2 linked regions of the Homo sapiens genome follow. The protein of the gene in region 1 interacts with the protein of each later gene in a pairwise test. Each region holds a gene or a part of one and is shown on either strand. Other genes may lie near its edges.

Region 1 (3,812 bases):
TTTGGGACACACTTATACTAAAACATTATCTAATTTATCTGAAATGCAAATTTAACAGGGCACCCTGTATTTTACCCAGAGGGAAGCCGAAGTGTTTGGCAGATCATTTGGCCCCATGAGCCTTGGGTGGGTTTCTCCTCAGCCCTAGTGACCCCTAAAATTACCCCCCCGACCCACCCACTGTCCCCTGATGCTTCCCCCACCCCCGGAAAAAGCTGTGGCCTCCCTCTCATTTGGGGCAGGCTGCCTCCTGTTCTCTTTTTCTGGTGTTTCAGCAAGGCAGGCCAGTGGAGGTGAGGTGACCAGAAGATGGCTAAAGGGAAAACAAAATGGTGGGCCTCTTTTTGGGAAACTGGGCCAGGGTTTGGGGGCCCTGTGCTGGTGGAGGAGAGAAGACCCCAGGGCGATGGTAGGAGACGAAAGCTTGGGCTGCAGCGTAAGCTTGGAGGCCCGCTGCGGTGGCTCACGCCTGTAATCCCAGAGCTTTGGGAGGCTGAGACAGGAGGATTGCTTGAGCCCAGGAGTTTGAGACCAGCCTGGGTCTCAAACCAAAAAAAAAGAAAAAGAAAAAAAAGAGCCGGGCGCGGTGGCTCACGCCTGTAATTTCAGCACTCTGGGAGGCCGGGCAGGCGGATCACGAGGTCAGGAGATCAAGACCATCCTGGCAAACATGGTGAAACCCCGTCTCTACTAAAAAAATACAAAAAAATTAGCCAGGCGTGGTGGCGGGCGCCTGTAGTCCCAGCTACTTGGGAGGCTGAGGCAGGAGAATGGCGGGAACCCAGGAGGTGGAGCTTGCAGTGAGCGGAGATTGCGCCACCGCACTCCAGCCTGGGCAACAGAGCGAGACTCCATCTCAAAAAAAAAAAAGAAGAAGAAGAAAAAAGAAAAATTAGTCTGGACGCAGTGGCTCATGCCTGTAATCCCAGCACTTTGGGAGGCCGAGGCAGGCAGGTCACCTGAAGTCAGGAGTTGGAAACCAGCCTGGCCAACATGGTGAAACCCTGTCTCTACTAAAAATACAAAAAATTAGCTGGATGTGGTGGTACACGCCTGTAATCCCAGCTACTCTTAAGGCTGAGGCAGGAAAATTGCTTGAACCTGGGAGGCGCAGGTTGCAGTAAGCCGAGATCGCGCCACTGCACTCCAGCCTGAGCAACAGAGCAAGACTCCATCTCAAAAAAAAAAAAAAAAAAAAAAGAAGAAAGAAAAGAGAAAAGGCCGGGCACGTTGGCTCACACCTGTAATCCCAGCACTTTAGGAGGCCGAGGAGGGAGGATCACGAGGTCAGGAGATCGAGACCATCCTGGCTAACAGTGAAACCCCATCTCTACTAAAAATACAAAAAATTAGCCGGGAGTGGTGGCAGGCGCCTATAGTCCCACCTACTTGGGAGGATGAGGCAGGAGAATGGCATGAACCCACGAGGCAGAGCTTGCAGTGAGCCAAGATTGCACCACTGTACTCCAGCCTGGGCGACAGAGCGAGACTCCGTCTCAAAAAAAAAAAAAAAAAAAGAAAAAAATTAGACAGGCATGGTGACCCTCGTCTGTAATCCCAGCTACTCAGGAGGCTAAGCCTGGAGGATCACTTGAGCCCAGGAGGTTGAGGCTGCAGTGAGCTACGATTGTGCCACTGTACTCTAGCCTGGGTGACAGGGTGAGACCTTGTCTCAAAAAACAAACAAAAAAAGTAGGCTTAGGCCCAGGACCCCTTAGCACCTGGTCTGAGGGTTCCCTCAATGACTTGCTGTGAGGACTGAGAAAGGTCTGTGCCTGAAGAGCTCCCGTCTGTCCCAGGAGAGGTAGAGGTTTGGGCCTGAGGCCTCCCTCACCTCAGCTCCTCCAGAGGTTTCATCATGGAGACATTCCTACTGGGCACATGGCAGGTCAGGCAGACCTGGGCCTAGCTAGGGTGAGGCCAGCCATGGGCCAGGCCTCTTGAGGTGACAGGGACTAGCCATGAGGAGTGAGTACAAGGACAGGGAGTAGAGCTTTCCTGGAGGGAGTCAGCAGGGTCCCCTTGAGTGGTGGGTAACCCTAAGATGGTCTTGTTGGCTAACCCTTGGACCTGGACACAGGAGAACATTCGAAATTGGCCTTAGCCTGGAGAATCTGGGATGGATTCTTGTAGTTTATATAGGAGTCCGTGCTGGGGAGGAGCAGTTGGGGCTATATTCCTACTGCTGGGACCTCATTTTTTCCTTTCCTCCCAGAAGCTCAAGTGTAATGGGAAGGGAAAGGTGTTGAAGTCAGGGTAAGGTGACGGGGCCGCCAAGACAGGAGGCGCGGGGCACACCCAGGGCCAGCTTTGCAGCAAGTTGGGCTGCAGCCTGGTGGTTGTGGGGATTTCTGCACCTGGTGCTTACAGGTGTCAAGAGTGAGGGCATCTGAGGGGGGCCAGAGAGCCCATCTGGGGCAAGCTGTCGCTCCCTGGGGCATGTGGGCCCAGGTCATGTTTTCAAGAGTAGCCAGAAGTCTGGATTCTTATGCAAAGCCTGTTTTGTTGTTTGTTTGTTTGTTTGTTTGAAGTTTGGCAGCAGATTTAACATTTTTAAAGTACTGTGCAGGCCAAACAAAACACGCCTGTTGACTGGTTGTTTGCCATCCTAAATATAAAGTGGGGCCCATGTGTGGTGGCTCACACCTGTAATCCCAGCATTTTGGGAGGCCAAGGCAGGAAGATCACTTGAGCCCAGGAGGTCGAGGCTGCAGTGAGCAGTGATCGCACCACCGCACTCCAGCCTGGGCAACAGAGGGAGACCTTATCTCAAAAAAATAACAAATAGGCTGGGCACAGTGGCTTATACCTGTAATTCCAGCACTTTGGGAGGCCAAGGCGGGTGGGTCACCTGAGGTCAAGAGTTTGATGTCAGCCTGGCCAACATGGTGAAACCCGTCTCTACTAAAAATACAAAAATTAGCCGGGCGTGGTGGCATGTGCTTGTAGTCCCAGCTACTCAGGAGGCTGAGGCAGGAGAATCGCTTGAACCCGGGAGGCGGAGGTTGCAGTGAGCCGAGATTGTGCCACTGCACTCCAGCCTGGGCCACAGAGCAGGAGTCCGTCTCAAAAAAATAAAAAAAATAAAAAAATAAGAAAGTGATGAGTATAGCTTAATACCCTCATTGGGGAAGAGGAGCAACGCCCTTTTTTGGGGAGGGGTATGTGTTCTGTGGTGATGGTTTTGGGGGGCAATTGTGGGAAACCTCAGCTGCTCCGCTGAACCCGTGTGCCCACCCAGTGTGTCTGTGGCTGTGAAATCCCATGTCCTCCTGGGTGCTCACTTGGTGCCTTAAACTTGAGCTCCATGGCCCCTCCGGGTGGCTGCTTAGCTGAGCATAGGTCCAGCTCAGAGGTAGAATTCTTAATGTTCTTGCCTCTGTCCCAGAGTCCCCTCAATGTCCACACCTAGAAATACAGTTTCTCATCACTGGGGTAACTTGAGAACTCGGTGAAGAGGTTGCCAGTTGGGGCAAAGAGAGGCACGAAAGCCTGGCTGCATTCAGCTTGTAGCCTGCGGTGGCCTCGAGCCTCGCTGGGAAGCAGCTGCAAACTTGCATCTTGGCTGATTTGCGGCCGCAAAGCCCAGATCTCTGGCACACTTTCTGCCCTGAAAGGTGTCCTGTGTGTTACAAGTCAATTACTTTTTTTTTTTTTTCCCAAACACAATCAAACCTTGAATGGGTTGATTTACTGGGAAGCTGGTCCAGGGCTCATGAGTAATGAATGGCTTTGGCCAATCTGCATGGAGTCCTGGCAATTTGTCATTCTTCCTCCAGCTTCTGTTACCCTGGCGCTCCTTTAGAATGATT
Region 2 (3,646 bases), on another chromosome or scaffold:
AGAATGGGGTCAAGGCAGTAGCTGAAAGGGAAAGTCAGGGGGAGGCAGCTGTAGCAGGACTGCTGGGCAGCACTGACTGTCCATTGAAGATGTGAAGTGAGAAGTTTAAAGTGAAACCGGCCGCCAAGGTGGTGTCACTCTTTCAAAACTGTTCAGTTGCCGGGTGCGGCTGGGTCAGCCACTGGATACAGTAGGCATTAAGGAGGTAGCAGGGCTCAAGCAGTGGGAGGTTCTGCTGCTCCTCCTCTGAAGCCATTACCAGAGCTCCAGTACTTCATTCAGTTTATTCATTCCTAGAATACAGACTGAACTTAAAGGGATGATGACAATTATTATTTTTTATTTCAGAGGCAGTCTTGCTCTGTCACCCAGGCCGGAGTGCAGTGGAGCAATCATGGCTCACTGCAGCTTCAAACTCCTGGCCTAAAGTGATCCTCTTGCTTTGGCCTCCCAAGTGTTGTGATTACAGGTGTTAGCCACTGTGTCTAGCCAATGAAGAATGTTATCCAGTAGCCAATAGCAGAAAGAACCACCATTTAAGCAAGAATTTATTTCCAGGACTATGTTTTTACTATAGATTAAAATTTAATATAACTTAATTCACATATAAAGACAACTCTGAAGACCATCTGGATATGATAATGGCCTGGGGTTAAGTGAAATAATTGAGGTCATGCTCAGGCCTGAGCAGATACCAACTTGCTCAAGCCTGAGAAATAGGACTTCTCTCTTTCACTCATCACTTCAAAATGCAGTGGCCTCCTGCAGAAGTTGCACTCAGCTGAGGAATGAGGCTTCAGTTCCAGCCCCACTTGCTTCCATGTGACTAGCAGATTCTCTGAGGAGAAACAGTTTTTAAATATTAAAGGGAGTAATATACACAAGAGAAATGAAAACATATGTCCACACAAAAACTTGTACACAAATGTTCATAGCAGCATTATTCATAATAGTTAACAAGAGAAACAACCAAATGTCCACCAATAGACGGATAAACAAAATGTGGTAAATCTGTACAATGGAAGGTTATTTGGTAACAGAAAGAAATGAAGTGCTGATGAATGCTACAGCATGGATGAGCCTTGCAGACATGATGCTGGAAGAAGGCAGACACAAAGGAGCACAGGCGGTATGATTCCACTTAGACACAAGGTCCAGAAAAGGCAAATCCATAGAGACAGAAAGAGCCGTGGTTGACAGGGGCTGGGGATGGGGAAAAGAGGAGTGACTCCTAATGGGTAGGGGCTTCTGAGGTGATGAAAATGTTCTAGAATCAGATAGAAGTGATGGTTGCATAACACTGGGAGTGTACTTAAAAATCATAGACTTGGATACTTTAAAAGGGTGAATTTTATGGTAAGTGAGCTATATCTCTACTGAGATAAGGCTTTTATAAAAATTTTAAGGCTTTTATAAAAATAAATAAAGAGAAAAATAAAACCCAGAGTTGGGCTTGATTTCACAGGCCTGTAGGGAAGAAGCTGCTCCAACACTGCCACGTGACAGTTTAAACCCAGCATTTCCAACAGAACAGAGAGCCTGTGAGGAAGCTGAGCCACGCTGGGCGGGCTTGGGAAGGCAATGTACCTTCGAGGCAGAGGTGACCTGTGGCTAATAGCCCCCTTCCATCTCTGCCTTTAGGTTGGACATGGGTGGAGCAGTATAGAACCACGGGGCAGTTGAAAATATTGAGCAATTCCTCTTATCAGAGGCGATTAGGTGTGGGGTTATTCAAGGATTATACAACATCATGGAGTAGAGGGCAGTGGTGAAGACAAATGTGAGGTGGACTCCGGAGGGACAGCGGGGACTCAAGCCTTCAGAGGCCTCTTCTCCCTGCAAGTCATTACTGTGCATCCTTCAGCCACGTAGACAAGGGGGCACTGGAAACACTGAGCGGATTCCCAGGCTCCCTCAGAGCTCCCAAAATGACTCTCCACCCTCTTGATGTGAATCAGACAATAAATACCTTTTAGGGTTTTGAACCATTTGAGGGCATGCTTAGTTACTTGGAAAAAGAAGAAACAGGCCGGGCACCAGGGCTCACACCTGTAATCCCAGCACTTTGGAAGGCTGAGGTGGGTGGATCACCTGAGGTCGGGAGTTCGAGACCAGCCTGACCAACATGGAGAAACCCCATCTCTACTAAAAATACAAAATCAGCCAGGCGTGGTGGCGCATGGCTGTAATCCCAGCTACTCAGGAAGCTGAGGCAGGAGAATCGCTTGAACCTGGGAGGCAGGGGTTGCGGTGAGCCGAGATTGTGCCATTGTACTCCAGCCTGGGCAACAAGAGCGAAACTCTTGTCTCAAAAAAAAAACTAAAAAAAGAAGAAGAAACAAATCTGAATGCCTCTGAAGGGCTTCAATTATAAACACTGCAAAGACAGCTTTATGCAACTCCTCAGTGAGGCACCAGCAGCTCCCCAGGTACTCACCAAGGAAGTAGTTCATCATCTGGGGTGTGTGGTGAGGGGTGGGGGCAATCCGTAGGAGCTCTTCTCCCCGGGGCACCGTAGGGTAATTGATTGCTTGCACGTAGATGTTATGTCTGCTCATTAGTTCATCACAGACTTCTGTGTTTTTAGCAGCATCTGCAACCTAAGTTCAATGAGAGCAGAAGGTAAGGTCACAACAGGAAGGACTACCTCTTAGCAGAGATCCTAACGAACGCAGTCCCCACAACGCTCAGGCTCAAGACCAGACTGTAGCAACACATGCAAGCTTGGGGCAGAGGGAAAGCGCTGCCCAAACACCTGTCATTTAAAAGAAGCCAGTGTTGTTTCGTGAACACCAGGGAACCAAAACCTTATTAAAAAGAAATACATTTTTAATCAGAAAACACTGGTTCTGTTCGTACCAGCAGACTCTCATACCCACGATGTATAATCTAGATTCAGTTATACTAGCTGTATTCATTACACTAATTCAACTGTGACATCAACAGTGCTACCATTTGTAGTGGGAAGGGCAAAACCTATTTTGAAATTTACTAAGTAGAAAGCCATACTTCAAAGCTGGCCAAGCTCAGGCTTCTGGAGCTTTCTAGATACAAGCTCTGTGTTTACCCTGTTAAGGTCAGTGCTCCGGAGAGGGAACTTCTGCCCCAGCCTGCTGGGTTCAAAGGCTTTCTTCTCTTGGTGAAGTCAGCCAATGGCGGAAACATGACAGAGGGTGGCTGGCTACAACCCCTGCCCTGGCAGTCACCCCGCTCAAGCCCAACTTCAGGAAGGTATGAAGCAGAACATCCGTACATCATGTGTAGAGGCACACCCCACGGCAAGTCCAATCAGAGACAGGCCATTACCCGCACAGGGATGATGTGGCTGGGGCAGTGGACAACAGGGAGGCCGGCATCCATTAGCATCTGTCTCATGAGTTTGACGTTGCGCTGGTGCTGGCGGCGAAGCACCCGTCCCTCAGCGCTCTTCAGGATCCGCACAGACTCCAGGGCTCCAGCCAGCAGCATGGGTGGCAGAGAGGTGGTGAAGATGAAGCCAGCAGCATAGGACCGTACGGTGTCAATCAGAGAACTCGTGCTGGCGATGTACCCTCCAACACAACCAAAGGCTTTGCCTGGGAGGAGATAGCTTCATTAATTACAGCAACAGCTGTAAATTGCTCTAAATGGACACAGCAAGGTGTTG

The links.
Region 2: the proteins of BCL7A (region 1) and ALAS1 interact in binary tests that used the Homo sapiens proteins (3 or more experiments, as listed by UniProt).

What each region holds. Positions count from the first base shown.
Region 1 is NC_000012.12:122,024,769-122,028,580, forward strand, and holds part of BCL7A (B-cell CLL/lymphoma 7 protein family member A), read left to right. Parts: intron 1-3,812.
Region 2 is NC_000003.12:52,211,212-52,214,857, reverse strand, and holds the end of ALAS1 (5-aminolevulinate synthase, non-specific, mitochondrial isoform 1 precursor), read right to left. Parts: intron 3,576-3,646; coding exon 3,307-3,575; intron 2,601-3,306; coding exon 2,438-2,600; intron 850-2,437; coding exon of another isoform or gene 839-849; coding exon 678-838; 3' UTR 531-677; downstream 1-530.